Linked DNA regions of Homo sapiens. The protein of the gene in region 2 interacts with the protein of the main gene of each other region in a biochemical or structural test. Each region holds a gene or a part of one and is shown on either strand. Other genes may lie near its edges.

Region 1 (3,600 bases), on a different chromosome or scaffold from region 2:
GTTTAATTAAAAATTTGAGTCTGACCCTGGGCCCACTGCCTATGAATTAGCCCTGCTCCGCAAGGAGCAGTACTGTTTTAAAAAAAATTTTTTTTGGACAGGCTGATTTTACATTTGTAATATTTCTAAATCTTAAATTAAAAAATATATATTAACATTTATATTTTAAAAGATGCTTTCAAAAATATAAAAAAATTAACTCATTACCTATTTTGTTTAAGGGCTCCTGGAAAAACTGAGGGAATGATCAATATGCACACCAAAACAAATATATACAAACTTCTAAATTTCATTTTATAGGAATAGTATCTATTGAAAGGGCAGGGTGCATGAATAACTCAGTGACAGGCGTAAACTCAGCCAGGATTAGAAACGTCTTCCCAATGGAGGCCCCGCTCAAGTTGAGAATTTCATGGACACAGTAAATCATCCAAAAGCCCACCTTCAATAACCAAAGTAGGCATAAAAATAGGCCGATGGTTACTTTGGAGATAATATAATCCTCGGTCTTATTGTTGTGGAGCAGATGTCATTATGGGTGGGGCTGAAGCGCAGAGCAGCTGAAACATTTTTATACCACCACCCGCACACTTTCAATGGGATAGAAGGGACTCCAAAAGGTAAGAGCTCCCAATCGTCAGTTGCTACTAGAAATAACTAAGTTTTGATGTGGCCGTGGCACGCGTAAAGGCCACAAAGAGATTTATAAAATTCTCCATGATTAATTCCTATCCTGGAAAAGAGGCAATCTCCTTTTCCCCTCCCTAGCCGGCTCCTCCTTGGGACACTTGGCTGAGTCGTTCTTTCCCTCCTTCTCACGCTGAGGTGAGGCCGCACGCAAGCCGGAGACGCCCGTTTTCCTCTTCGCGCGGAGGAAACTCTACGGGTAAGAAGCCGGGGTGGCGGGAAAGGAGCACGCGGCACCGCGGGGAGGCAGAGAAGGCTTGCCAGGGACTAGCCGGGCTCGGGGAGAGCAGGGACACGCGGGCCGTCGGACCGAGGAGGCCGAGGTGACGAGGAAAATCTCCCGGCGCGGAGCCGGGACTGGGCGCTTCCGGCGGGCTACGGTTGCTCTTGGCCTAGCACAGCCTGCGTCCCGGGCCCCAACCGGGCCAGGTAGGGAGTTAGGAGAGAGGGTAAACCGCGGCTCGCACTTGCCTGAGACCGGGTGACCAGTAACTGGTAATAGTCTTTGCTAGGCGGCGGGCCTTGTCCTACAGTTTCAAAGAGAGTCTCCGGCAGCCACGACGCCATCTTGGGACGCCACCGCCGTCGCTAAGACAACCAGGAAGGGGCGGGGCTTGGTTGGGGTCAAGGGGCCAAAACCCTAGTTTAAATTGAACCACGCTTATGAGCTGGCAGAAGGATTTCTAACTTGGGGCGATCGTCCCCTCTTCCAAGGGTCTTAGGGAACCCTGATCCGTGAAATTTCCAGCTCCAGGTCCCGGGTGACCCGAGGGGGAATTAGTTCCTGCTACCACGGAGGGGAGGGGGTGACCCCGGCGGAGGGATACCAAGTAGATCTCCACAGTCCCCTTCCTGGTCCCTCGAAGGGATCGGGCGGAGATCGGAGGCTGCTGAGAGAGTCGAGCCGGGAGGCGTGGGAGGGAGGGGCGATGTGATGGGCCGCCAGTAGGCAGCGGTGCCGGTCCCGCGGACGAGCCCGTAACCGGAGCCCGAGGACAAAGTAGTTCCCCGAGGGTGTCAGAGCAGGCGGGGAGGGAGGCGGCACGGGCGGAGGCGCACGCCGGGCGCGGTGCTGCGGCTCAGCTGATAATTGAAGGAACCCGGAGCCGCCGCCGCCGCGCCGCTGGGGGGGGTGGGGGGAGCTAGTGGAAGTTACTGCCGCGCCACCGAGTCCGGACCGGAGACTTTGGGGCCTAACTAGGTAATTGGGGCGCAGCTCTGGGCGGCGGGGGCAAGCCTTGGGGGAGGGGGCCAGCTGAGGGGTTGGGGGGGCGGGGGGAGGAGCTGGAACAGAAAGTCCCAGGAAGCCCGGTTGTGTCATCGCCGCGATTCGGCCCCCGCTTGGCCTGCTCCCGGCGCCGGCGGCGGCGGGGCCGCGGAAGGACCGGGCCGGGGGTGGACGGGAGAGACGCTCGAGGGCGGCCGCGGCCGGAGGGACCGGGGCCTGGCGGGAGGTAGGGGTCGCTGGGTCCCTCCTCCGGCTTCCCGCAATGAGGAGGGCCCTTCACAGAACCGGGGTAAGGCTTGCGGGTGTTGGGGAGCTCGGCGGGGACCAAGGGGGGCCGGAAGTGGGCTTTGGAGCTTGGAGGGTGTCTGGGAAGAGAGAAAGTGGGGGGCCGGAAGTGCAGGTGGGGGGTGTGAAGACGGCAAGGGTTCCCCGGAAATGGGACGAGGGGCCCGGAAATCGGGAAAGGGGAGGCTCCGGGGCCGTGGACGGCCCGGAAATGGAAACTAGGAAGCAGCTCCAGTGACAACAGTTGTGGGAAGCGAGGGTCAGAGAAGGGAGAGGCCAGAGAGACTTTAGACCGCAGTAAGGGGTTTCCTGCCCAGGGGGACGGCGAGGGACGGTTGAGGGAGGGCGAGCCCGGAGACGGGGTCTGCGCGGGGCAGTTTTTTAAGCCGTGGGAAGTTGAGGCTGAGGGAGGATGATGACGAGGGGGGCATGCAGGGAGGCCTAAAGAAGCCGAGAAACTTGACTGAGAGGAATAGAGTATCCTTTTAAATAGATCAGAATGGAAATTGGTGGTAGGTGGGTTTAACTAGGACTTGGGGGAGGGAGGTGGGCCAATTGTCACCCCAATCGTATTAGCATTCAGAGCGAGTCAGGCGATTAATTTATTTATATGTGGATTACATAAAACCTATTATTTACAACGTTTGTCCATCAGTTCAGCCCCTCTCCTTCCTTCTCCATAGTGAGTGGGTTTCTAGTACAGGAACAAGTTAGAGGGGAGTTCGAATAACGAAGGTAGTAAAACCTCAAATCCTGTCTTCCTCGGCGTCTCTCCCTTCCTCAGAATAAGAAATCCTTCATTTCCTAGACGGAAAAATGCGGAAAAACATAAAAACACATGTAAATCGGGGGGAAATCACACTTTGAACTCCTGGTGGGGGACAGGAGGGAATTGGTTACCTTACGTGGTGAGGAGATAACGGAAGGGGCAGCTTCCAAACCCTTAAGACAAATGTTGTGTTTTTTTGATAATGCTGTTTTACTTTGGGGGAGGTTTAGCCTAAGCATCGAGTCTGGTGGTGGGCATAGTTTAATTGCTTCTTTAGTTAATTGGGGGAGGGAATGTGTTTGTGTGTAAAGGTTGGGCCGGTGCGGGGGGAGGCGGGTACGGTTAATAGCGCAGTGAATCCGTTCTAAGTGGACGTCTAACTGCTCTCCTGCTGTCTCCTTTCCTAGTCGCGGTCCTCGATCTTGCCTGGGCTGCCAGATCACCCGATCTCCGGGCTTTACTCCGTTTTGTAGGCCCTTTAGTGATGTGTTTAACTTTATGTTCCTCTCGAGAGTCTCATTAGGTATTTTTGGCATTTCATTTTTTAAAGACCTAGCAAGTTGAGTCTCAGAGTCTCCTCTTTAAAAACAAAACAAAAAATACGGGGTAGAAAGTTGAAAGAGCTATTGAG
Region 2 (3,947 bases):
ACAAGATTTGGTGATGGGAAAGACAAACTGTTACAGTACAAACTGTTACAGTCATGTGATTGGCAAAGTATTCGAGAAAGATGAGTATTAGGGATATGAGGGTTATTGTTTTGGGTATTTGGGGCAGCAAGCATATACTTACAGAAGATTATTTTAATCTAAATTTGCTTCCTGGACAACCAAATTCAGAGGATATGGAAAGGAGGCAAATTGCAAGTCGTCTATATTACCACTGATTAATACTACTACCATGACAACAAACTACGTTATCAATGCCAATTACACAAAAACACAGTTATTTAAAAATGGCGAGCTTATTTTCCTGTGGAAAGTTAACAACTGTTCAATGGACACCCTCCGTATGGCTAAGCAGCAGCCTATCAATAGCTTTCTAATAATCTGATAATTCCAAAATGAGTCCAACAAATTCTAGGTTTAAAACATTTGAATAAAGACATTTCTTTCGTTGGCATGGTAAGACTTTTTCTTTCATCTTTCAAAACAATAAAGTCAAAGGAAAGGCTCCACGCTGGATCTGATTAGGAGGAAAACATTGCAGTTTCCCACACAACTCACGTTTTCCTGAGTAAGGTTGCTGGTTGCTCGAAGGCCCTCATCATGGATGTGGTTTTGCAGCTCCTGAATCATATGAGGTAAACCAGTGGACACAGCACGGAGTAAGACGTACATATTTGCCATGTCTGAGAGGAAAAAGACATCTGAGGGTTAACTCCCAAATATTTTCATTTATTAGGTAATATATGGATCCAAGTGCAGGAGTACAATATACGGATCCAAGTGCAGAGCACCCAGAGAAAAGTCCCCCATGCCCACCTCCCAGCCACCCAAGCCCCTCTCCCCACAGGAAAGGGATGTGGTTATTTAACATCTTCCCAAAGATATTTTGTGCAAATTCAAGTGAATACATATATTCTTCCCTTTGCCCCTTTTAATACAGTGTACTGTATTTTGTATATTATTTGTAGCTTCAGAACACATTTTAACTTAGTGGTCTTTTCCTATCAGTACACAAAGCATTTCTATGTATTTTACAGCTGCACAGTACTCCATTATGTGGATATAATTTCTTAACAACTGATGGAAATTTAGGTGGTTTCCAGTCTCTTGATATTGCAATGTTGCAATCAATAATCTTATACATGAGCAAGAATATATGCAATATAAGTTCCCAAAAGTGAGGTTACTGTGTCAAAGTTTAATCTTGTAGACAGATCCTTCTAACCACAGCTGCCAACAGCAGAGAGTTCCTTTGCCAACAATGTGTTGCCAAATGTTTTGATCTCTAACACTGGGAGGTGAATAATGATCTCTCAGTGTAGTAGGTTTAATTTTAAACGTTTCATTAAAGCATCATACATATACAGAAAAGTATACAAACCATAAGTGTATATCTTACTGAATTATCACAAGTGAACACACAACACACCCATGTAATCACACGCAGGATAAGAAACAGGCATTACCTACACCCAGGAGTCCCCTTCATGCCTCCTTCCAATCACACACTCTTGCTCCTCTGCAAAGGTAACCACTGCTGTGACTTCTAAATCACAGATGAGTTTGAACTACGTATAAAAATGGGATCACACAATTCTTTCGTGTCTGGCTTCTTGTGTTCAACATGTGTATAAGGATCATCTATGTTGTTGTGCATGGCTTTAATTTGTTCATTTCCACTCCTCTATAATATTCCATTGTATGAATATACTGTACTATTCTACAGTAACTGGACATTTGAGCTGTTCCAGTTTATGGAGCTATTACAAACACTACTATGAACATTCCTGTATGTCTTTTTGTATATATGTCCAGGCATTGGCAGTGGGGAGGTAAAGCTGGGGGGTGGTTATATGTTTAGGAGAACTGCTGGATCATAAAATATGCATAATATATCCCACTTAGCGGTCAGTGCCAGTTTCCCAAAGTAGTTGCATCAATTTATACTCTCACTTCAGTGTTCAACAAGTTCCTGCTACTTCACACTTCTTTCTATGTTTATTGGCCATCTGGGTATCTTCTATTCTGCAGTGCCTGTTTTTTGAGCATTTTATATTTTGGATATAAATCTTTAGTATTGCAGGTACATTACCCTATAACTGTCTTCTGATGATCCAGTGGTTTTAATGGCTTTTTTTGAGACAGGGTCTTACTCTGTCACCCAGGCTGGAGTGCAGTGGCAGGATCTCGGCTCACTGCAACCACCACCTCCCAGATTCAAGTGATCCTCCCACCTCAGCCTCCCAAGTAGATGGGACCACAGGTGCACACCACCCCGCCTGGCTAATGCTTGTATTTTTTTGCAGAGATGGGATACTGTCATGTTGCCCAGGCTGGTCTTGTACTCCTGAGCTCAAGCAATCTTCCTCCCTCTTAATGGCCTTTTAATAATCCAAAGTTTTTCATTTTAATGTAGTTCACTGGATCAATCGTTCCTTTGTGGTTAGGGCTTTTTGTGTCCTATTTAAAATATCTTTCCCTGTCTCAAGGTTATGAAGATATTCTTCTATATTATCTTCTAGAAGTGTTATTTTTTTACCTTGTACATTTAGAGAAAAAACTCAATAGTGAATTGATTTTGTATATGGTATCTTGAGGTAGTGATCAAATTTCATTTTCTTCTGAAATGGATATCCAATTGACTGAGCAATGCGTGTTGAAAAGACCATCTTTTACCTGCCGCTCTGCAGCGCCACCTTGGTCTTACATCAAGTGGCCACATATGCTTGGGTTGTTTCTAGGATCTCTTATTTTATTAGGATATCTGTCTGTCCTTGTACCAATGCCTCACTGTCTTAATTACTATAGGTTTTACAATAAGTCTTGCTGGTCATTAAAGTCTTTCCATCATACTCTTCAAGACAGTGACTTTCGGAATTAAAATGAAATTATTGGGTTTTGACTACATTGCCCTGGATCTATGAAATTAATGTTGCTGTAAAAAACACGGGGCCAAGGGTGGTGGCTCGTGTCTATAATCCCAGCACTTTGGGAGGCCAAGGCAGGTGGATCACGAGCTCAGGAGTTCGAGACCAGCCGGCCAACATAGTGAAACCTCGTCTCTACTAAAAATACAAAAATTAGCCAGGTGTGGGGGCGGATGCCTGTAGTCCCAGCTACTCAGGAGGCTGAGGCAGGAGAATCGCTTGAACCCAGGAGGCAGAGGTTATAGTGAACAGAGATCGCGCCACTGCATTATAGCCTGGGCCACAGAGCGGGACTCCGTCTCAAAAAACAAAAACAAAAAGCCTGATTAATGGCCGGGCGCGGTGACTCACACCTGTAATCCCAGCACTTCGGGAGGCCGGGGCAAGCAGATTATCTGAGGTCAGGAGCTCAAGACCAGGAGGCCAACATGGTGACACCCCGTCTCTACTAAAAATACAAAAATTAGCTGGATGTGATGGCACACACCTGCAATCCCAGCTACTTGGGAGGCTGAGGCAGAATTGCTTGAACCTGGGAGGCAGGGGTTGCAATGAGCCAAGATCATGCCATTGCACTCCAGCCTGGGCGACGGAGCGAGACTCCATCTCAAAAAAATTAATTAATTAAATAAAATATACATATTTATTATCTTTCCTGCCTATAAAAGTAATGCATGTTTTTTGTTTTTTTAAAAATCAGAGAGGCCGGGCGCAGTGGCTCACGCCTGTAATCCCAGCACTTTGGGAGGCTGAGGCGGGCGGACCACAAGGTCAGGAGTCCGAGACCAGCCTGACCAACATGGTGAAACCCTGTCTCTACTAAAAGTACAAAAAAATTAGCCAGGTGTGGTGATGAGCGCCTGTAATCCCAGCTACTCAGGAGTCTGAGGCAGGAGAATCACTTGAATCTGGGAGGCGGAGGTTGCAGCGAGCCAAGAGCACGCCGCTGCACTCCAGCCTGGGCGACAGAGTGAGACTCTGTCTCAAAAAAAAAAAAAAAAA

The links. Proteins that work in one complex are often made in the same cells at the same time.
Region 1: the proteins of CUL2 (region 2) and TRIP12 form a complex in vitro, tested with the Homo sapiens proteins (one study listed by BioGRID).

What each region holds. Positions count from the first base shown.
Region 1 is NC_000002.12:229,920,168-229,923,767, reverse strand, and holds the start of TRIP12 (E3 ubiquitin-protein ligase TRIP12), read left to right. Parts: upstream 1-1,758; 5' UTR 1,759-1,888; intron 1,889-1,978; exon of another isoform or gene 1,979-2,497; intron 2,498-3,600. Other genes in the region: FBXO36 (F-box only protein 36), read right to left, coding at 1,159-1,254. UniProt on the Homo sapiens protein: E3 ubiquitin-protein ligase involved in ubiquitin fusion degradation (UFD) pathway and regulation of DNA repair.
Region 2 is NC_000010.11:35,034,596-35,038,542, forward strand, and holds part of CUL2 (cullin-2), read right to left. Parts: intron 702-3,947; coding exon 577-701; intron 1-576.